2 separate regions of the Homo sapiens genome follow, and region 1 is linked to region 2. Evidence: fine-mapped expression QTL. A gene starts in region 2. The other region holds a variant in brackets. All regions are shown on one strand. Distances are between the middles of the regions.

Region 1 (12,069 bases), 980 kb after region 2:
GCCTTCCCCCTGGAGGTCCCATCCAGGGTGGGAGATGGCCCCAGACCAAGTTTGGGCAGCCAGAGATGTTTTGCTCCAAACACAGTAGTTAGCCCCTTCTCAGTGGGTATCTCAGCAAGGCTTTGTGCTGGGGGCCTGGGGCTTGCTGCTACTGGTGCAGATGAGGGTGGGGTGGGGGCTGTGCAGGAAGCCTCAGAAAGGCTGAAAGTACTCACTGGTGAGTGCAGCCTCGAGGTATGCGAGTGGAGTGGGCAGTGGCGAATGCCCCTAGTGTGCTGGGCAGAGGAGTTGGGCTTTGCCCGGCCTGTAAGAAGTTCTTAAACATGTCATGGTAGCAGAACCCGGGAGTGTCCCAGTGCTCCGTGTGAAATGTCTGGAAATGTGGATACACTTAAGTCTGTCTTATGAACATGACACTCTACGTGACCATGGTCTAAAATCACCACTGTGAGCTCACACGTGCCTCATCAACTGTGTCATCGGTTGTTTCTGAGGTTTTATTTGAACATGCATTTGCTATTTGTCTGCTCATAGCAGCAGCTGTCCAAATTAAAAAAAAAAATGTCAGGTTCACATATACATGTAGATGTGTGTGTACACACAAAGAGAGAGAGAGAGAGAGAGAGAGAGAGGGAATTCTCTCCAGTCGTGATTTTTGTCAATGGAGATTAGCCATTGTTCACTGGCACCAAGCTAGTCCACTAGGTTAGGAGTTGGTGGATGAAGCTCAGGATGAGGGTCTTCTTTGTGTCTGGCAAGCCCTCTTCGGGGTGGATGGAAGGTGGAGGGTGGCTGGAGGTGGGTAACTTGATTGTGATGGTCCAAGGAGAAAGGAAAGGTCTGAGCTGGGCCGTGGGCCTTGGTGTGTAGAGGGGCTGCCTTGGACAGGGTTTCAGAGGGGGAATGAGCAGATGGGGTAGTCTCAGAGGGGAGCTCTGACTTGGGGGACTGCTGGGTCACAGATCTGGGGTGAGATGCTGGGTTCCACCCGGGTCGTGCTGAACATGAGGGGACTATGGGAACTCCAGGTGAAGCTGTCCCAGAGCAGGTGGATTCATGGATCTGGTGCTCCACACAGTGAGCAAGCCTGGAGATTAGGGAGCTCTCTGGGCAGAAGCAAAGAGTCTGAAGGAATTAAAAACCAGACCGGGGAACTGCCAGGGAGTGAGGAGGACCTGAGTGCACTCTCAGCAAACCAGAGAAGGAGCCCTCCTGGAAGAAGAGGCTGGGGTCAGTGAAGATGCGTCGGCCTGTTGGGGAGTGAAGATGGAGACCCAGGCACCCAGGGGCATGAGCAGCAAGGGTAGCTGAGCACTGTGGGTGGAACATGGCTATGGTCCCCAGTTGGGTTAGAGGCTCTGCACCCCTTGAGCCCTGGCTCCCGGGGCCTGAGGCAGCTGCCGCTGGGCTGACCCCCGAAGCACCAATCCCCATCTCTCTTGCTGTCCTCCGTCTCAGGAGCATTGTCACAGCCTCCAGACCAGTGTCCAGCATTGAGAGGAGGGACTGTGTGGAGCCATCCCCATGTGCTGGCTCGTGTCCTGTGACCAGCACGATGTGATCAAGAGCTTGGTCACACTCAAGGAGCCGGGGCTCAGGGTGAGACTGGAGTGTGGACCATGGACATAGAGTCACAGCCCCACACCAGGCTGCTGGGTGTCTGACCTCTCAGACTTTGTGTCTGTGTAGTGGGGGTCTGGGTGGGACAATCTCATCCCATCCACATGAGCCAGGGATGGCTGTACTACCTGGCATTGTAGAGGTTGGTGTCACACTACCCCTCTGTAACAAGCAATGACATTTAGAGACCCAGTTCCTTTCAAACTGGGGACTGAAGGATTGGAGGTAGATTGTCTCCAATATATAAATGTCCCCTGAACTCAATACAGGAAGGGTTGATCAAGTAATCCTGTCTGGCTGGGAGCAGGGAGCTGAGAGCCAGCTTGGGGCCGGGGGTGGATGGTGGCAGCTTGAGGCCAGGCCCAGGCCCCAGCAGGTTGGGCCAGAGCTGTGGCCTGGAAATGTCATCCTCAGCTGAGCTGGAGCCACTGGGTCCCTATGCCCGAGGCAGCGGAGGCCCCAGGAACAGCTGCCAGGAGCCCCATGTCAGAGGCCCGACCATGAAAGAAGCCAGACTCGCCTTATCTGCCTTCCTTTCCCAGACACACTGTGCGATAAGAGAGTTAAATGCTTTAGGGAGAAGTTTGAATTAAGTCCTTTCAAACGGTGTTGTGAGTGGAGGAGGGCCGGGTCAGCAGTGTGAACTGTCTTAGGATGGGGCTCTGGCCCTGCGTGGGTCTCGTCCCCATGGATGGGCCCGTGCAGATCAGGCAGCACCCAGAAGGCCTGAAATATTCTTCCTTCCCCTACAAAAATGTCTAAAAGCTTTTCCAATAAGAAGGTCCCTGAAATCAGACTTACCTCATCACCCTTCCGCCTTTCCCGTGAGTGCCTCAGGCCTGGGCTCCCTCATGGGGCACCTCCCCTTTCTCAAAACAAAGCCGAGCTGGGGAATCTTGGGGGGTACCAGGCCAGCTCAACAGGACCTGTCCCCAGCCCCAGGGCTCTCCAGCGATTTCTGCCCCGGTCCCAGCATACCGAGGCCCCTCCCTGGTTTCCTTCCGCATGACGGCGACAGGCTGCCCCCATCAAAGGAGAGCAGTAACCCACTGGGGACTCTGCGGGGACAGCTCGTTCCAGCCCAGCCCTTTGGTTGAAGACCTCTGAGTTCTGTGAAGGTCCCACTGGGTGGTGACCCCAGTCCCCCGCCTTTTCCTCACACTCATTGGCTAAGACAGATCCCATGGGGCCGGGGCTCATACTGACCCAGGTCCTGGAAGACAACTTTGCCTTGAGTTGTCCTCTCTGCCCCCTAGAAGGCCAGAGCACTTTGTGGACAGAGCCCTGGTTTGGGGTGGGAGACCCGAGTCCCGTACTTTGGCTCTGCCACTACCTTTAGTCATGGTGTGGGGTTTAGGGGTTCCCCCTGCCCCACCCCACGTCTTGCTTTCCCCATCTGTGTGATGATGGGTTGGAGGATGGTCTCAGAATAGCCCCTTGCGCCTTGACCTAAGGCACGGGCAGACCCCTTTCCCCAGGTGACGAATGCTTCTAGTCGTGGGGCAGGGGAGCTTGGGAGTCTGGGCTCAGCCCTACACCCCAGCCTGCATTAGCCCAGCCCCTTCCCCTCCTCCCTTTGCCGGAGAACCCTTAGCAGTGATCTAACCAGGATAGAACTTACTCCCAGTCTGGTGTAGCGCCTGGTCCCCTGGGGCATCATGGGGGTTGTTGAGGGGCTGCAACGTGCAGGGACAGGCATCTGCGGAGGGCCTCCCACCCACCTATAGAGAAACATATTTCCTGGGAAAATGGTTTCACCCTCAGCCTTTCCCCCCAGAGCCCCGCCTGGACCTGTGGAACCTGTCAGACGAGAGCAGGGTGGGTGAGGGGGCACGGAGACCCCAGAGCCTGGTGACTGTGGGGGCCGGGGTTCCAGCTGGACTGGCTGGTTCTCCTCCCCCTGCCGACATGGTCTACACGGCCGCAGCGTGGCTCTAGGGGCACCCGTTCTGCTCTGCGTGCTGGGAGACGCCCTGTGCTTTTCTTGCGTTTCTGAGAGTGGGCCTGGCCTCTCCTCCTCCCACTCTTGAATCAAGAGCTCAGGGGTCGCCTCCTCTCCAAGGCTGGCTCTTCCCAGGCTCTGGGTCCTGTCTGCTGTGAGCTCCCCAGTGGTCCCGCTCTGCAGATGCTCCCCTCACCTTTCTCACCCTATGAATGTGGTCTTGCCTCTTCCTTCTGGAAAAACCCCTCAGACCCTTTCCCCTGGCTTCGCTCAGGGCTAAAGTTACTGCGCTGTCTTCATTTCTCTGGGACCCCTCTGCTAGGCCATCTCCTGTCCCCCAACCCCCTGTCCCCCGCCCCACGCTTCTGATCACCCATGACCTCTTCTTTTGCTGAACCCAATGGATGCCTGGTTGGATTTCCTCTTCACCTTTTCCTCAACCCCAGGCTGCCTTTGGACGCACCTGGCTTTTTTTTTTTTTTTTTTTTTTTTTTTTTTTTTTTTTTTTTTTTTTGAGACAGAGTCTCGCTCTGTTGCTCAGGCTGGAGTGCAGTGGTGCAATCTTGGCTCACTGCAACCTCCATCTCCTGGGTTTAAGC[G/A]ATTCTCATGCCTCAGCCTCCTGAGTAGCTGGGATTACAGGCACCCACCACCATGCCTGGCTAATTGTTGTATTTTTAGTAGAGATGGGGTTTCACCACGTTGGCCAGGCTGGTCTTGAACTCGTGACCTCAAGTGATCCACCCGCCTCGGCCTCCCAAAGTGCTAGGATGACAGGCGTGAGCCACCGCGCCTGGCCCCGTGCCTGGCTTCTTGACTCCCTTCCTTCCTGGCCTTGGCTTTCTCACCATTCTTCAGGGGCTCCTCCTACGTCTCTGGCTGCTCCTCATTCTCCGCAGACTGCTCTGTTGCTTCCTGAAATGTGGGGGCCTCATCCCAGGGCCCCTAAGCTGCTCTTCCTCTGCTGGGCTTCCAGGAGCCCAGTGCATGCCCCTGACTCCTGTTTTTCCATGTTCGTCCTTCTTTTCTCTTAAACTCCAGACTCAAAAATCCAGCTACCTCCTCAGCTCCCTGATGCTCCAGGTGCCCCAGGCCCTCAACATGTCCCAACTGAAACCCTCATTTAGCCCCTAAACCTGCCCTGACCCACCAAGTCTGGGCTTGGGAGAGGCTTGGCACCCTTCCTCTTCCATGTCCACCCAGTCTCCCAGCCAGATCCCTTTTCCCCAAAGCTCCGAGTCCTTCTTGCCCGTGGCCCTCCCAGTGCCCCATCTCCCCTCCCCAGGTTCCTGCCCAGGACTAGTGAAGTGTCTTGCCATCTGGTCTCCACTCTCTGGCATCTTCTGAAGGGTGTGCCTGAAACACAGAGCCGAGGACCTTGGGCTCCTTCTTGTCTAAGGCGTCAAGTACCCAGGGCCAGCAGCTTGGGCGGCAGGGCAGGCAGCTTGGGCGGCAGGGCACTTCTCCATCTGCCTGCGTCCTGGACGGGCATGATCAGGATACCTGTGCCTTGATGTCTCTCTGCAAAAGCAGACACTAATCACTCTGCTGGGAGTGCCCTCCCTTGCTCCTCCACCGGGCTCACTCTGGATGTGGCTCAGGCACCCCTGCCTCTGAGAAGCCCTCCTTGCCCCACTGGGTCAGATGAAGCCTGTGTGAGGCATCCTTATCCTGACACGGCCCCCTCTGTTCACCAGCCTGGCTCCCCTCCCAGACTGATTCCCCAATGGCAGGGTGGCACCTCCCGCACTGGTTGCAAGAGGAGCTGAGCCATCTGGGGCCAGGGATGCAACATCATTTGCCTGGGAACCTTGTAGACCAGGGGGCATCTGGGAGAGGCACAGCCGACCTCTCAAGCCGCTCGTCCTGGGCTCGTGGTGGAGCCCCCACCAGCCCCACAGACACTCTCAGCCGTTCACACGCCCTGGCTGTGAGGAGGGCAGGACCAAGGTTGAGGACTTCTCCCCTGGCCACACGTGCCAGCTGTTTTTTGCTGTATAACTTTGGGCAGGGCACATGCCCTCTGGGAGTCCTCGGGCCCCATCTCTGAAATGGCTCTGGCAGCACCTACCGGGGAGGACAGTTGCTATAAGTGGTGTTTAGAAGGTGTTGCTATAAGGATAGCACCGGAAAAAGGGCTGGATGTTTGGTAGATGCCGAGTGGCACTTGCCTAGCCTGCTCCCGTTTCTCAAACAGGGAAACAGACCCAGAGGGGAACTGATGTGGCCCAGGTCACATGGGTGGGTGGCAGCACAGCCTGGATCCCAGGCTCCCCACTGGCTCTTGGCCTTGGCTGTCTTGTCTGCCCCCACCTGCCCCACCCACTACTACTGCCCAGCTGGGATGGATGAGTCGCACGGAGCTGATCAGGCGCTTGCACTCTGCATAGCCGGGTAAATCTTGTGTCCCCGCCTCCCATGCAAAGATCTCATCGTGATCAGGGCTCCGTAGCTCATCGTTGGCCCAGAAGGACCTGGTGCCACTGGTTCCTGCTGCCCCTGCACGGGTAGCCATGCCGACCTGGCCCAGCTGAGAGGGGCAGGGGGCGAGGCACTCCTGACCCCATCATCTGGTCCAGCCTGGGGGAAAAGGTGAGGGGGCCTAATGTCATTGGAACCCTCCATCTTGACTTCTGTCCTCAGCTTTTTGGGACTCTGGGAGGAGCCCAGTGGAGGTGTTTGCCTCCCAGGATCGCAGGGGCTCAGCAGTTGGAGTGGGGCCATCCCAGCTTTTGCTGTGTGACTTGGCCCGTCACTTTCTTCCTGGGGGCTGTTTTCTCTCAACATGATTGGTGTTTTGCCAGAACGGGAGGGGATTTGGGGGTGGGCAGCTTTTGGGGGTGGGCAGCTGGCCCTAGCTGATGGGGTCTCGGTGACATTTGTGTCTCTGTAGAGTTTGGATCACGATGAGGCCAGTGAGTCGGAGATGAGAAAGACCTCAAACTCCTGCATCATGGAAAATGGGCACCAGCCGGGGGCAGGTAGGGCTGACGGCAGAGGAGGGGTGGCTGGGTAGGTTTGGGGGTTAAGTAAGGCCTTGGTCAGGTATCTGTGCCAGGCTGGCCCTTGGCCTGGCATCGGGGGGACTCTATCCTGAACCCCAGCAGGGAGAGAGGCTGCCAGGAGAGCAGCGTCATTCAGTAGAACTTGTGAAACACAGAGGGAAGTTGGGAGATCTCAGGAGGTAGTGAGCTCTCCTGTTTCTAGAGGAAAGCAAATAGAGGCTGAGGAGCCGACTAGTATTTATTAAGCTGGCCATGAGGGGAAGTTGGGAAAAATCAATTCTGGTTGGAGCAGTAAGATATCCCTGGTAGGGGAGGTCAGAGAGGCTGGAGCAGTCAGGGAGGCCTTCCTAGAGGAGGTGGGAGGAGGGCCCAGGGAGGCTAGAGCCCTCCTGGGAGGTCCCAGGCCCCTGTGGCTGCCACAGCTGACCACCCACCCATGCTGGTCACATGTTCCAGGTCCAGGCGATGGACCCCCTGAGATTGCCCAAAACTTCTCAGCACCAGATCCCCCCAGGCCTCGTCCTGTGAGCCTCTCCTTGCGGCTGCCCCACCAGCCAGTCACGGCCATCACCCGAGTCTCTGACAGGTTCTCTGGGGAGACCTCAGCTGCGGCTCTATCACCCATGTCTGCTGCCACCCTGGGGGGCCTCAACCCAAGCCCCAGCGAGGTCATCACGCCCTGGACTCCCAGTCCTAGCGGTATGAGCTGGAGAGCGTGGCCTTGGGGCAGACCTCCCCTTGGGATGGGAGAGGGAAGGCCGGGGCTGGGGAGAGGGAGTCGGTGGGTGACATGGAAAACGAGGGGCTAAGCCCAGCCCTGCCTCTGCCTGCCATGTCAGCCCCTTCCCTTAGCCCATCCTCCCGGGCTACTGCCCAGAGATGCTGTGAAATAGCGTCATCCCCTGGTGGGGGCGACCGTGGCTTTTATTACAGTTGGAAGGTGGCCTCTTGCCCTGCACGTTGGGCACTGTCCCCTCCCTCAAGGCCCCAGGCCTGACTTGGGCCTGTGGCCAGTCCTCCGTGGTATGTCCTGGGGGAAGCCGTGTGGGCCTCTATAGGGAGGGTTTGGGAGCAGTGTTCACTGGATACATGGCACGGGCCCTGGGCTCTGTGCTCTCAAGAGCAGGGCGGGGACAGTTGAAAAGACCTCTTTGATGTTGTTGCTGTGTGTGCCCATCCTCCTTTCTCCTCCACTGTCTGCTGAGGCAGGGCCAGCTTAGCCCAGAAGGTTAGCTCATCCATGCAGCGATGCCGGGTAAATGAGGCAGGGCTGGGTCAGAGGAAGGGAGGCTATGGCGGGCCCTCCCTGGGGCCAGGGTTTGTTACTTCTCTCCCTCTCTCTTCCACAGAGAAGAATTCCTCTTTCACGTGGTCTGTGCCAAGCTCTGGCTATGGGGCAGTGACAGCAAGCAAACACAGCAATAGGTGAGTCAGGGCCTGTGTTCCTGTGGGGTCGCTGCGCCCCAGGTGTCTTCTCTGCTTTGGACGCAGGCCGCCCAGGGTTGGCCCTGGGGTTGGTGCCTCCTGGTAAGGCTCGGGGCTGGATCTCGGGAGCACTGGGCGGCAGGATGGGGGGAAGGTCTGAGCAGGGGGAGTGAGGCAGTGGGCCTCGGTGGAGAGTTTCATTTGGAGAAATATGGTCACAGCCTGGTTTCTTTGTGGGACCTTCAAGTCAGTCAAAAGATTGGAGGAGTGGCCGGGCGCGGTGGCTCACACCTGTAATCCCAGCACTTTGGGAGGTTGAGGTGGGTGGATCACCTGAGGTCAAGAGTTCGAGACCAGACTGGCCAACATGGCAAAACGCTGTCTCCACTAAAAATACAAAAATTAGCTGGGCATGGTGGTGGGTGCCTGTAATCCCAGCTACTTGGGACGCTGAGGCAGGAGAATCGCTTGAACTCGGGAAGCGGAGTTTGCAGTGAGCCAAGATGGTGCCACTGCTCTCCAGCCTAGGTAACAGAGTGAGACTCTATCTACAAAAAATAAATAAATAAATAAATAAATAAATGAATAAAAAACAAAAAAATATTGGAGGAGGCCTCTCAGCCGGCAGGAGGGAGAGGACAGGAGCTTTGTCTTCTTCCATCCCAGCCAGCTGGGGTCCCTCAGAGCCCGGAACTTCCTGCCCACGGGCTGCGAGCAGGGGCAGGTGAGCAGGTCCTTCCCTGTGGCACAGGCCTCCCCCCAGCCAGCCAGCGGGACTGTGATTGGGGATGGGGGTAGGGTAGCAGGCTTGGCTTTTTTTTTTTTCTTTAATAATAAAAGGAGAATTGTGACTTTCTGGCAAACCGTTCTGGGGAAAACAAAGGGGGTCTTATCGCATGGTGGTGGAGGCAGGAGGCCTGGTCCCTCCGGGGCTGGTTCTGAGCACACCTCCTGCCTGAGGAGGGGGTCCCTCTGTCCTCCCCAGGCATTGACACCTGCAAAGGGGTGGTTATGTCCAGATCGGGCCCAGCGTCTCCTGAGTTGAGCCTATTGGCCAGTCCCTCCAGCCAGCACAATTCAGAAAACCTGTCAAACCAGCTAGGGACCGGAGCAAGGGGGCCTCTTCTCTGAGCGCCCATCACGGTGCAGGCTGCCTTGTCCACACTCAGTGCAATGGAGACCTTGGGGCCTGGTGAGCTAGTGATGGCTGCTGGGCCCAGGTCCCAACTCGGCGATTCTTTCCTCAGCCCACCGCTGGTGACACCACCCCAGTCGCCCGTGTCCCCGCAGCCGCCAGCCATAACTCAGGTCCATCGGCAGGGGGAGCGTCGCAGGGAGCTGGTGAGGTCGCAGACGCTGCCCCGCACCTCGGAGGCGCAGGCCCGGAAAGCATTGTTTGAGAAGTGGGAGCAGGAAACGGCGGCCGGCAAGTACGGATGCCCACTCACAGACAGGCCCGGCCCCACGGTGTGCCCAGACCCAGACGGGGCTTGGGTGGGTGCAGCAGGGCAAGGTTCAGCCCTGTCCTGTTCCCCAGGGCGCTGTTGCCCAGGACAAGATCTCTTGGGCAAGGCACAAAGTTAGGGCTGGGCCACAGGGCAGCTTGGGGGGACAGAGGACCCCAGTTGTTGGGGGAGATGGCTGTGAGGCAGGGAGCCAGGAAGGCTTGGTGAGAGCCCCTCTCTCCTCCTCCATTCCCGAGGCCCCCTGTCCTGTCTCTGGTGCCGCCAGGCTGCCCTCACACCCACATTCCCCAGGGGTTGTGGCTCCTCTGGTTTCTGGGCATGACCGGGGACTGGATGGGGACTGGGATTCCTGGCCAGAGCTGGGAGCCCCAGCATGGGGTTGGTCTTGCCCAAGGACCGAAGGTGATGCCACGGGGCCGAGTGGCCTCCAGCCTGCTACTAGGTCTCGAGCGACGGCTCCTCAGGCTCCAGCCCACCTTTGCATATTCAGCCAGTCCTCGTGTCAGTGCATGGTATTGATGCCTGCTGTGTGCAGAGTGTGGCCCAAGCGTGGTATTGATGTCTGCTGTGTGCAGGGTGTGGCCCAAGCGTGGTATTGATGTCTGCTGTGTGCAGGGTGTGGCCCACGCGTGGTATTGATGCCTGCTGTGTGCAGGGTGTGGCCCAAGCGTGGTATTGATGTCTGCTGTGTGCAGGGTGTGGCCCACGCGTGGTATTGATGCCTGCTGTGTGCAGGGTGTGGCCCAAGCGTGGTATTGATGTCTGCTGTGTGCAGGGTGTGGCCCAAGCGTGGTATTGATGCCTGCTGTGTGCAGGGTGTGGCCCAAGCGTGGTATTGATGCCTGCTGTGTGCAGAGTGTGGCCCAAGCGTGGTATTGATGCCTGCTGTGTGCAGGGTGTGGCCCAGGCCTTGTGGGATAATGAAGACGACAGCCAGTCCCTGCTCGACTCTAGTGAGGGGGACCGACCCCGGACATCTCCCCACTGGCCCCAAACAACCTGGCCTAGGCCATTAGGGACTGTCCTTGGGGCCCAGAAGAGGAACTCATCCCTCCTGGCTAGGAAAGAGCCATCAGGGAAGGAGGCACCCCATTAAGAGGGGAGCTCAGAAGGAGGAGTGGGAGGAAGGAGCTGGGAAAGGTGTTCCAAAGCAGAAGGCAGGGGCCCAGGGCCATGTGAGCCAAGGTCTTCTGTCTCAGGATTCCCAGGTGACCCCTGCTTCCTGGATGGGGAATAAACAGGGGACCTGGAGGGCTGTAGGGGTGTGGACGGTCCTGCCACATACCATCAAAGGAGGCTGTGTCGCTGGTACATGGGCTGTGCCGTGGACGTGGGCACAGCTGAGCCCACGTGTGCCACCAGCATCTCCCCTGGGTGAGCAGAGCAGGTGGGAGCACCCTCCTTGGTGGTGCCAGGACAGCCTCCCCTGCCCCAGACCCGCACTGGGAGATGGCAGCTGGAGGGGCCCCCGCAGCAGGCCTGCCGTCTCTCCGCAGGGGGAAAGGCGAGGCCCGGGCCAGGCTGAAGCGGTCGCAGAGCTTCGGCGTGGCCAGCGCCAGCAGCATCAAGCAGATCCTGCTCGAGTGGTGCCGCAGCAAGACGCTGGGCTACCAGGTGAGCCCCGGCTCCCCTCCGGCTGCTGGGACGCCCCAGCTAAAAGCTTGACCAAGCGTCGCCCCTGTCCTTGTTCTCCCGCCTGGGCAGGAGCCCGCTGAGGCTGGGGTTAAGGGGTAGGAACCACGGTAATTATGCCTTCCGAGTGGGTGCCCAGCTGCCCTCCCGCACTGACCCCACTCACCCTGTTGCAGCACGTGGACCTGCAGAACTTCTCCTCCAGCTGGAGCGACGGCATGGCCTTCTGCGCCCTGGTACACTCCTTCTTCCCCGATGCCTTTGACTACAACTCCCTGAGCCCCACGCAGAGGCAGAAGAACTTCGAGCTGGCTTTCACCATGGCCGAGTGAGTATGGTGGCTCCTGCTGGCTACCAGCCCCAGCCCAGTCCCTGAGCCCAACTTCTTCCCCAGGTGGGGCATGGGGGCGAGTGGGATGTCGGGCCGCTGTCTGCAAAGCTGAAGGACCCTGGGGCCATGTGGTCTGTGTACCTCTTGTGCAGATGGGAAGACTGAGGCCTGGAGAGGGATTTTCCCAGAGTCACACAGCACTCAGTGGTGGAGGGGGACTCCGTTCCTGGGGACCTGCCCTTTTTGCTAGGTGCCCAGCTTCTGAGGTGCACTCTGGGAGACCAGCCACAGACCAGGCATGAAGGGCAGCAGGACAGGGTCCCCCAAAGCTCTGAATCTGTCCTCTCTGGACTGATGGAGAGATGCCGTTGCTTGCATGAGCCACAGCTGCCAGTTAGCAAGGAACTGGATATGACCTGGGCCACTTAAAAGGAGATTTTTGCTTCCAATAAGATTTTCCTTCCCGAAATGGTGTTCTGGCATTTATTGTGAAATTGCCTAGCTTCTTAGGTCCCACCTCTAGGGTGAAGATTTGGGGGTGGCTCTGGGGTCAGGAGGCACCTGGAAAGCCAGTTCGGGATTTGGTTTTTGGCCGAGGGCCTCAGGAGAGTTGGCAAAGTCAGGTCTGTCTGCCAGGGCTCCAGCGGCGGA
Region 2 (9,024 bases):
GACCTTGGATGGAAGAGGCCCGCGTGTGCTAGATGCCGGCTGTATGGACTCCGGCTGGTAGCTGAACCTCTGGGTCTACTTCTTCCTCCACAAAATTACAGCCAAGAACACCTGCCCTACCTGCTTTACGAGGCTTTTCTGGGATTAGTCAGGATAGTGGGTGTGAATGGGCTCTGAGCCTGGTAAAGCTCTAGGCAGGCATGAGAGATGACTGCTCTCATCTTCATTATTTCAGCCTGAGGACCACATCTGCTGACTGCTGAGCTGTATCCGGCCATTAGCTCGAAGTTATGACTAATTGTTTTTTAATGAAAAAAACAAGGTTTGCTTAATGTTTGATGAGTCACGCAAGTGAGCATCTCTGTATCAGGACTCTCCCACTTTCAAAGACTTGGCCTGTCCATCTACCTGTGGCTGAGGGGAGAGGCCAGGTGAGACCCTCTCTCCTGAGGGCCCACCATGTGCTATACAAATCCCCTAGCAGAGCAGTAGGGTCAACAGGGTGGTCTCTGCGCTCAAGAAGCCCACGATGGACAGGAAAGGAAGATGTGCACAGGCTCTCTCTTGACACTAGGCAGGGCAGGGCACCCTGTAACAGGCACAGGCCAGGGGCTCTGGGGCCAACAGACCATGCCAACAACAAATGTTGAGCCGGGTCTTGGCCTCCCCTGCAGTTGTAATCAGATGGCGTATGTGTCACCAGGGAGGCCCTTTGCAGAGGGCAGATGCCATTTGGGCTGGGCCTTGGACAAGGAGAAGGATTCTGCCCCACAAGGAGGACATTCCAAACATGGGCCTTGGCATGAGCTAAGGTGCAGGAGGACAGGGCTGAGGACACCTAGGCACCTGCTCTCAAAGAGCTTTCAGTCCACTTCAGAAGAAGAGAAAAATAGGCCAGGCGTGGTGGCTCATGCCTGTAATCCCAGCACTTTGGGAGGCTGAGGCGGGCGGATCACCTGAGGTCAGGAGTTTGAGACCAGCCTGGCCAACATGGTGAAACCCCGTCTCTATTAAAAATACAAAAATTAGCTGGGTGTGGTGGCAGGCACCTGTAATCCCAGCTACTCAGGAGGCTGAGGCAGGAGAACTGCTTAAACCCAGGAGGCGGAGGTTGCAGTGAGCCAAGATCGCACCACTGCACTCTAGCCTGGGCAACAGAGGAAGACTCTCAAAAAGTCTCAAAAAAAAAAAAAGAAAAAGAAAAAGAAAAAAAGAAGAAGAAGAGAAAAGTAGAGAACATGAAAGCCACATACACATGATGTGGACGGGGTCAAGGCCCAGAGGCAGGCAGTGTGTGGCGGGAGGAAAAGCAGCGGCTGGTGGGCTGGAGTCCCCTACCCTGCCCTGAACTGGGTCTGGCCCACCATCTCTCCAGGCTGTTTTACAGCCTCCTGTCTCCCAGAACACCCTTCCTCCAATCCAGCGTCCACACTGTCAGCTACACTCCCAAGGCCCCAGTCCTCCAAACCCCACTGTCTACAGGAGACAGTCCAATCCCCTCAGGCGGGCATGCAAGACCCTTCACAGTCTGCCCAACACGTCCAGCCACAACTCCTATAAACATCCTTCCATTCACACTATGACCAAGTTACACCAATTTGTCACACTCTGGACATGACGATCACTTTAATGTAAACACATTTACCTAGCCTGACCCCACTGCCTAGTTGCTAAAGAGAGTGGGTTCGCTCTGGGGTTTGAATCCTAGCACTGTGATCTCAGGTAAGTTACTTAACTTTTTTGTTTATCTATCTCTCCATGTGTGAAATGGGGATAACACTACCCACCTTCTAGATTAAATGAGGCCTGGCATGGTGCCTCATGCCTATAATCCCAGCACTTTCCGAGGCCGAGGTGGGTGGATCACTTGAGGCCAGAAGTTCAAGACCAGCCTAGGCAACATGGCAAAACCCCGTCTCTACTAAAAGTACAAAAAATTAGCCAGGTGAGGTGGTGTACACCTGTAATCCCAGCTACTCGCGAGGCTGAGGCATGAGAATTGCTGGAACCCGGGAGGCTGAGGTTGTAGTAAGCTGAGATCGCACCACTGCACTCCAGCCTGGGTAACAGAGTGAGACTCCATTTAAAAAAAAAAAAAGATTCAATGAATTCAAACAAGTAGAGTTTAGATCAGATCCCAGTACACAGCAGGTACTCAAAAAGAAATGTTAACTGTCGTTAGTAACCATGGATGGAAACCCTTGGAGGTTTAGCTCAATGTGACTTGTGTAAAGAATGAATTTCTCCTCCCTCTGGGCATAGAGGTGCTGTCATTGTCTGTGTCTTTTTCTTTTCCTAGGGTCTGTTTATGTAACCAACTGTTGGTATTTTTCCATTGCCTCGTGATGGAAATTCAACGGGGGGCAGTCTCTGAGAGAACACCCAGCTACTACTGGGCGCTCAGAAAATGTGGCTGCCTGGGTCTGTGCTGGGTGCATGGGAGACGTCCCAGGTGCAGGCTACTGAGGCTGCTCTGCTGTGGTGACAACCCCCAAATCTCAGTGGCTTCAAACATCAAAGGTTTATTATTTATTTATTTATTTATTTATTTTAAAGACAGAATCTCGCTCTGTCTCCCAGACTGGAGTACAGTGGCATGATCTCAGCTCACTGCAACCTCCGCCTTCCAGGCTCAAGCGATTCTCCTGCCTCAGCCTCCCAAGTAGCTGAGATTACAGGTGCCGACCACCATGCCCGGCTAATTTTTTTGTATTTTTAGTAGAGACGGGGTTTCACCATGTTGGCCAGGCCGGTCTCGGAACTCCTGACCTCAAGTGATCCGCCCTCCTCGGCCTCCCGAAGTGCTGGGTTTACAGGTGTGAGGCACTGCACCAAAGGGCGCTTACTTCTCTGTCCCACTGCACGTCCCTCGCTGGTTGGTGAGAACTCTACACCACACTGTCCTCACTCAGGGACCCAGGCTGACAGAGCTACCACTCTCTGGGGCACTGCCAGTCACTTGTGGCAAAGGGAAGGGTGTGTGGCAAGTAGCTCACTGGCTCCTAAAGACCTCTGCCCAGGAGTGACAGGCATTCCCTGTGCACGTCCCACTGGCCGAAGCGGATCGGGGGGAAGGTGCAGCCCTGCCGTGGGCTCATAGCATCGGGATACTGACGGCCAGCAAAGGAGCCCCGCTCACCACTTCTTCAGAAGCATGCCGGCCTCAAACCACTTACTGGCACCTCCTGGGAAGGAGGGTGGGTTGTGCACGTGGTTGTGACTTCAGGCAGCTGCACTCATCCCCCACCTAGACGGAGGCTCCAGGCCTCAGGCAACGGAAGCAGCAGGAGCAGCCCTGTTTATTGACAAACTGGGACCCTCCAAGGCTCAGTCCTCAGAGGCAGAGTGAATGCATAGTCTGGAAAGAGGACAGAGAGTTCCGGGGCCACACCAGGCACAAGGCTGGGCTGCCTGAGCTTGCTGGATGTCCATCCCGTTCCTAACCTTACATTTGCAGACCCCATCCACTGCATGCTGGGCAGGCGAGACAGGCTGCCACTCTGAGATTAGACGGCCTGGCTCCTCCCAAAAGACAAAGGACGCTGGTAAACTCAGCCTACTCTTCTCTCTCATGCAGCCTTCCTCAGGGCTGCAATGACAGCATCTTAAACTCATTTGGCTGAAAGAAAAATTACAGTAGCAGGCCAGGCATGGTGGCTAACGCCTGTAATCCCAGCACTTTGGGAGGCTGAGGCAGGTGGATCACCTGAGGTCAGGAGTTCAAGACCAGGCCAACATGGTGAAACCCCATCTCTACTAAAAATACAAAAATTAGCCAGGTGTGGTAGCACATGCCTGTAATCTCAGCTACTCGGGAGGCTGAGGTACAAGAATTGCTTGAACCCGGGAGGTGGAGGTTGCAGTGGGCTGAGATCGCACCACTGCACTCCAGCCTGGGCGACAGAGGGAGACTCTGCCTAAAAGAAAAAAAAAATACAGTAGCCCCCTGTCATCCACAGGAGATATGTCCCAAGACCCTGCATAGATGCCTGAAACCAAGGCTAGTATTGGATCCTGCATATGCCATGTTTTTTCTACACATACATATCTGTAATATAATTTAATTTACAAATTAGGCACAGTAAGAGATTAACAACAACAATAAAGTAGAACAATTTTTTTTTTTTTTTTGAGGCAGAGTCTCGCTCTGTCACCCAGGCTAGAGTGCAGTGGTGCGATCTCAGCTCACTGCAACCTCTGCTTCCAGAGCTCAAGCGATTCTCCTGCCTCAGCCTCCTAAGTAGCTGGGATTACAGGCGCGTGCCATCATGCCCAGCTAACTTTTGTATTTCTAGTAGAGACGAGTTTTCACCACGTTGGCCAGGTTGGTTTCAAACTCCTGATGTCAGGTGATCCACCCGCCTCGGCCTCCCAAAGTGCTGGGATTACAGGTGTGAGCCCCCACACCCAGCCAAAGTAGAACGGTTTTAACAATACACTCTAATAAAAGTTATCACACACTGTGACCATACTTTTGCAGTTTGAGGTGTGACAGCAAAACTGGCATGAGGCTGGGGTCAGTGGCTCCCGCCTGCAATCCTAGTACTTTGGGAGGCCAAGGTAAGTGGATCACCTGAGGTCAGGAGTTCGAGACCAGCCTGGCCAACATGATGAAACTCCATCTCTACTAAAACTAAATTAGCCAGGCGTGGTGGCAGGAGCCTGTAATCTCAGCTACTCAGAAGGGTGAGGCAAGAGAATCGCTTGAACCCGGGAGGCAGAGGTTGCAGTGAGCCAAGATTGCACCACTGTACTCCAGCCTGGGTGACACAGTGAGACTATGTCTCAAAAAAAAAAAAAAAAAGGCAAAAAAAACTAGCACGAATTTCTTTTTCTTTAGAATTTCACAGATAGAAGATTCAGCATATGACTGTTTTCTTCCCATCTTTTCACTTAAAGGAAGCACCTTACGGTTTCTCTTTGGCATATCCGAACAGCCAGCATCACTACCAGCATCACTACTCTGGTGCTTTGGGGCCCTAATGAAGTAAAAAAAGACTGACCTGAACAGAAGCACTGTGATACCAGGACGGGCGATCTGACGACTAAGTGACTGACCGGCGGGGAGCATCTACGGCCTGGACGTGGGGAACACAGGGACGGTTTGCATCCCAGATGGCACGGCAGAGACTCTCCATCACACTGCTCAGAACAATGCACAAGGGAAAACTTGGGAACTGTTTGAAGAATTTTCCATTTAATATTGTCAGACCGTGGTTGACCGCAGATAACTGAACCCATGGAAAGTGACACCGTGGATAAGGGGGGACTACTGTGGACAGCTTTCCTGGGTGATTGGGAGACGTTTTTCTGGTAGAACACCAGGGCAAGGCTTTTCTGAGGATGATCTACGAATTCTCCCCAGAGCACTTCAACCTCCCAAACCAAGCTCTGCGGCTGTGCCATTGCACAGTCTTCCCACAGCAGAGAGGTGTGTTTTATTTAAGGCACAAGACTCTGGAAGAATGGGCTTTGTATTTATTTATGAGACAGAGTCTTGCTCTGTCACCCAGGCTGGAGTGCAATGGCGCGATCTCAGCTCACTGCAACCTCTGCCTCCCGAGTTCAAGTGATTTTCCTGCCTCAGCCTCCTGAGTAGCTGGGATTACAGGCATGCGCCACCACGCCCGGCTTGTATTTTTAGTAGAGACGGGGTATCCCCATGTTGGTCAGGCTGGTCTTGAACTCCTGACCTCAGGTGATTCACCCACTTGGGCTTCCCAAAGTGCTGGGATTACAGGCGGGAGCCAACATGCCCGGCCAAGAATGGGCTTTAGTATCTGACATTTGGCCAGAGTGATCAGGCATTTGCTCTCATCTTAGAGCTTCCAGATAATCACATAATTTGTAAAATGACATTTATAAAGAGACAATATGTTTCATACCTGTCATGGATACTGAGAGAGAGAGAGAGAGAGAGAGAGAGAATACGACTGCTTCCCAAACTCGTGGTTGCCAGCGTGACTCTGGGCCAGGCCTGCCTGAGCCTGGGCTCCTTTGGGAGTCTAGAAGTAGATGCGGCAATGGTGGCCCCCTCCTGGAAGCCACCCCACAGCCATCCCTACCAATCACAAGAAGGCTTACAACGCTCTGGGATCCCTACAGGGATGCCAACTCAAATGGATGTTTCTGCTGAGCCAGGAGCACACACTGGGCCAGCAAAGCCCACGCCAAGCGAAAGGAGAGCCTGGGCCTATGGGATACAGAGTTCTCTTTGAATAAACTACCTGCCCCATCTGGCAGGAGTCTGCCTGGCTGCATCCCTTCCCATGAGGGCTTCTGGAATGTGCAGGGGCAAAAACACTGCTGCACAGACATGCTCCTGGCAAGGGGTCCTGCTGGTGCCTTGTCAGGTTCTGGAGTGGTGTGAGCTGCACAGCATCGGTCCCCCTTGCTGCTCATGCCATCCGCCTCTCCTTCTCGCAACCTGCCTTCCAGGCAGTTGTGCTGTGAAGACCTGGGCGGCCTGGGTGCAGCAAGCTCTCCTGAGGCTGAGTACATGCAGCAAGAAGGCCGGCACACAGCCCCGCATCGTCTTCTGAGCCTGCCTGCTGCATCGCGCTTGGGTCAATCCCTGGCCCAGCTAAGCATCTGCAGCCAGGGGAGGATGAGACTAGGAAAGGGGCCTCCGGTCACATGGTTCAGTCCAGGAGACAAGAACTTTTCCAGAAGTCCATACGACCCGAGTGTGGGCTTCAGGTCTCCAAAAACGATAATCACAAGCTGGGCATGGGGCAGTTCTCTTTTCCCACTTGGGACCAAAGCCACCAGACTTTCTGGTGTCTGAAGTACACATTGATCTGCTCTCTGTCTACAGGTGAACCACAGATGAGCCTGCTGACCAGCAGGCTGGGCTACTGTGCTCTCATGCTCTCTCTCTCCCACATGGACATTTGTAAATAGCTCCCAGGTGGGTCAATTTCGGAAGGCACTCATTTGGGATCTGGCTGACGGCTCCTGGCTGCATTATTAGAGTATGTTCTGAAGGTAAGTTCTTGGCCGAGATGGGACCTCACAACAAGCACTGCTTGAAAGCTGTCCACTGAACGGTCCAGGGAAAGGATGACCCACAGATGGTGTCAGGAATGTTAATCAGGTAAAATTCACAGCAGTCGTTTGGCGAAAGAGTTTGCTGTCTAAGATTCCTTCTGGTTGAGGTGTCTCCGGAGCATGACCAGAGCTGCCCCGACAGCTGCATCCACATCCTGCCCAAAGGACATGGGCAAAGGGAAAGCCCTCTGCACCTCCTGCTTCAGCACGTCATTCCTGGACAGCGCACTCCCACTGCCCATCACCCTCTCCACGCCCCACTCCTGGAGCTGCTGAATCGGAAGCATGGAGTGCAGGTTCTGAACAATGCCTCGGCACAGAGCCCGGGTCACGTGCCCCAGGGAGAGGTCGGAGGAGGAGATTCTGGTCACTGAGGCCAGCTGGTCCGGCAGGTGCCTCTCCCCCAGCACTGTCGGGGTGATGGTCAGGTGGGTATCTCTCTGCTGCACAGCTGCCTGAATCATGCGTGAATACACAGTGGATTCTTCAACCTCCAGGCCTGCCAGAGACAGAGAAGATCTGTGTAAGCTCATGCGTCCCCCTCAGTGCAGGCTGACATGGCAGAGAATTCCCACAGGGTGGGAACAGCGCTACTTGCTGCTTCTCCTCCCGCTGCAGCTGGTGGTTCTGGGCTCAGGGACTGCTATAGCCAGGCTAGCTACACTCTGCCCTGGATCCCCGCCCGCTGTCTCAGTGCAGACCCCAGCCAGACATCAGGGTGAGGTCTCATTAAGTGCTGCCATGAGCCCTACCCCTAACACAGGCTTCTTAACCAAGGGGACCAAATGCATATACAGACTAATAACTATCATTGGCTGGGCGTGGTGGCTCACGCCTGTAATCCCAGCACTTTGGGAGGCCAAGGCGGGCAGATCACCTGAGGTCAGGAGTTCAAGACCAGCCTGGCCAACGTGGTGAAACCCTGTCTCTACTAAAAGTACAAAAATTAACCGGGCGTGGTGGCAGGCACCTGTAATCCCAGCTACTCAGGAGGCTGAGGCAGGAGAATCACTTGAACCTGGGAGGCAGAGGTTGCAGTGAGCGGAGCTTGCACCACTGCACTCCAGCCTGGGCAACAAGAGCAAGACTCCATCTAAAACAAACAAACAAACAAAACTATCATCATGGATGTCATTGGGGTCGTTAGCAGCATCAGAAATCCCAGGATCCAGGACCAATCACTGAATGGGCCACCCTCGTTATGTGCACAGGGCACCTGAAATCCAAGGAAGAAGGATGAGTTGACCATCCTACAACTTGCTTTTCAGTGTCAAGCCAGAATCCCGATCGGACTTTTCTCCCTGACACCACGTTAGCTCTGCGGGTTTTTTTTTTTTTTTTTTTTTTTCTGAGGCTCGCTGTGTCACCCAGGCTGGAGTGCAGTGGCACATATCCTATCGGCTCACTATAACCTCTGCCTCCCGGGTTCCAGCGATTCTCCTGCCTCAGCCTCCCAGGTAGCTGGGATTACAGGCCCACACCACCACACCTGGCTAATTGTGGTATTTTTAGTAGAGACAAGGTTTTACTACATTGGACAGGCTGGTCTCAAGCTCTCGACCTCAAGTGATCTACCTGCCTCAGCCTTCCAAAGTACTGGGGTTACAGGCATGAGCCACCATGCCCCGCCAGCTCTGCATTCTTAAAACAAACAAACGAAAAAAAAAAAAAGGCCAAGCGCGGTGGCTTACGCTGTAATCCCAGCACTTTGGGAGGTCAAGACAGGCGGATCACTTGAAGTCAGGAGTTCCAGACCAGCCTGGACAACATGGTAAAACCCTGTCTCTACTAAAAATACAAAAATTAGCCAGGTATGGCAGTGTGTGCCTGTAGTCCCAGCTACTTGGGATGCTGAGGCATGAGAAACGCTTGAACCCAGAAGGCAGAGCTTGCAGTGAGCTGAGATGGTGCCACTGCACTCCAGTCTGGGTGACAGTGCGAGACTCAGTCTTAAAAAAAAAAAAAAAAAGCCTT

Alleles and levels. Alleles are on the strand shown, and positions count from the first base shown. SD is a standard deviation of normalised expression in the study named.
As copies of G replace A in region 1, the expression in fibroblasts of the gene that starts at base 5,988 in region 2 goes down (small effect, 0.39 SD a copy in GTEx).

Evidence for each region. PIP is the estimated chance that this variant, and not a neighbour inherited with it, causes the effect.
Region 1: its variant is fine-mapped to the expression of TRPV1 in fibroblasts (GTEx, PIP above 0.99).

Annotation. Positions count from the first base shown.
Region 1 is chr17:4,585,909-4,597,977 of GRCh38, forward strand. It overlaps SMTNL2 (smoothelin like 2), which reads left to right. Exons shown (of 8, transcript NM_001114974.2): 2 at 6,453-6,540; 3 at 7,021-7,263; 4 at 7,914-7,989; 5 at 9,237-9,419; 6 at 10,952-11,069; 7 at 11,264-11,415. Among named protein-coding and RNA genes, the nearest start is that of SMTNL2, 7.4 kb to the left of the region's middle. RefSeq lists enhancers at 1-217, 6,968-7,539. The variant G/A (reference allele first, on the strand shown) is at 4,162.
Region 2 is chr17:3,603,424-3,612,447 of GRCh38, forward strand. It overlaps TRPV1 (transient receptor potential cation channel subfamily V member 1), which reads right to left and starts at 5,988. Exons shown (of 17, transcript NM_080704.4): 1 at 5,886-5,988; 2 at 5,004-5,142. SHPK (sedoheptulokinase) reads right to left here. Exons shown (of 7, transcript NM_013276.4): 7 at 4,817-7,549. The coding sequence ends at 7,137. RefSeq lists an enhancer at 5,878-6,379.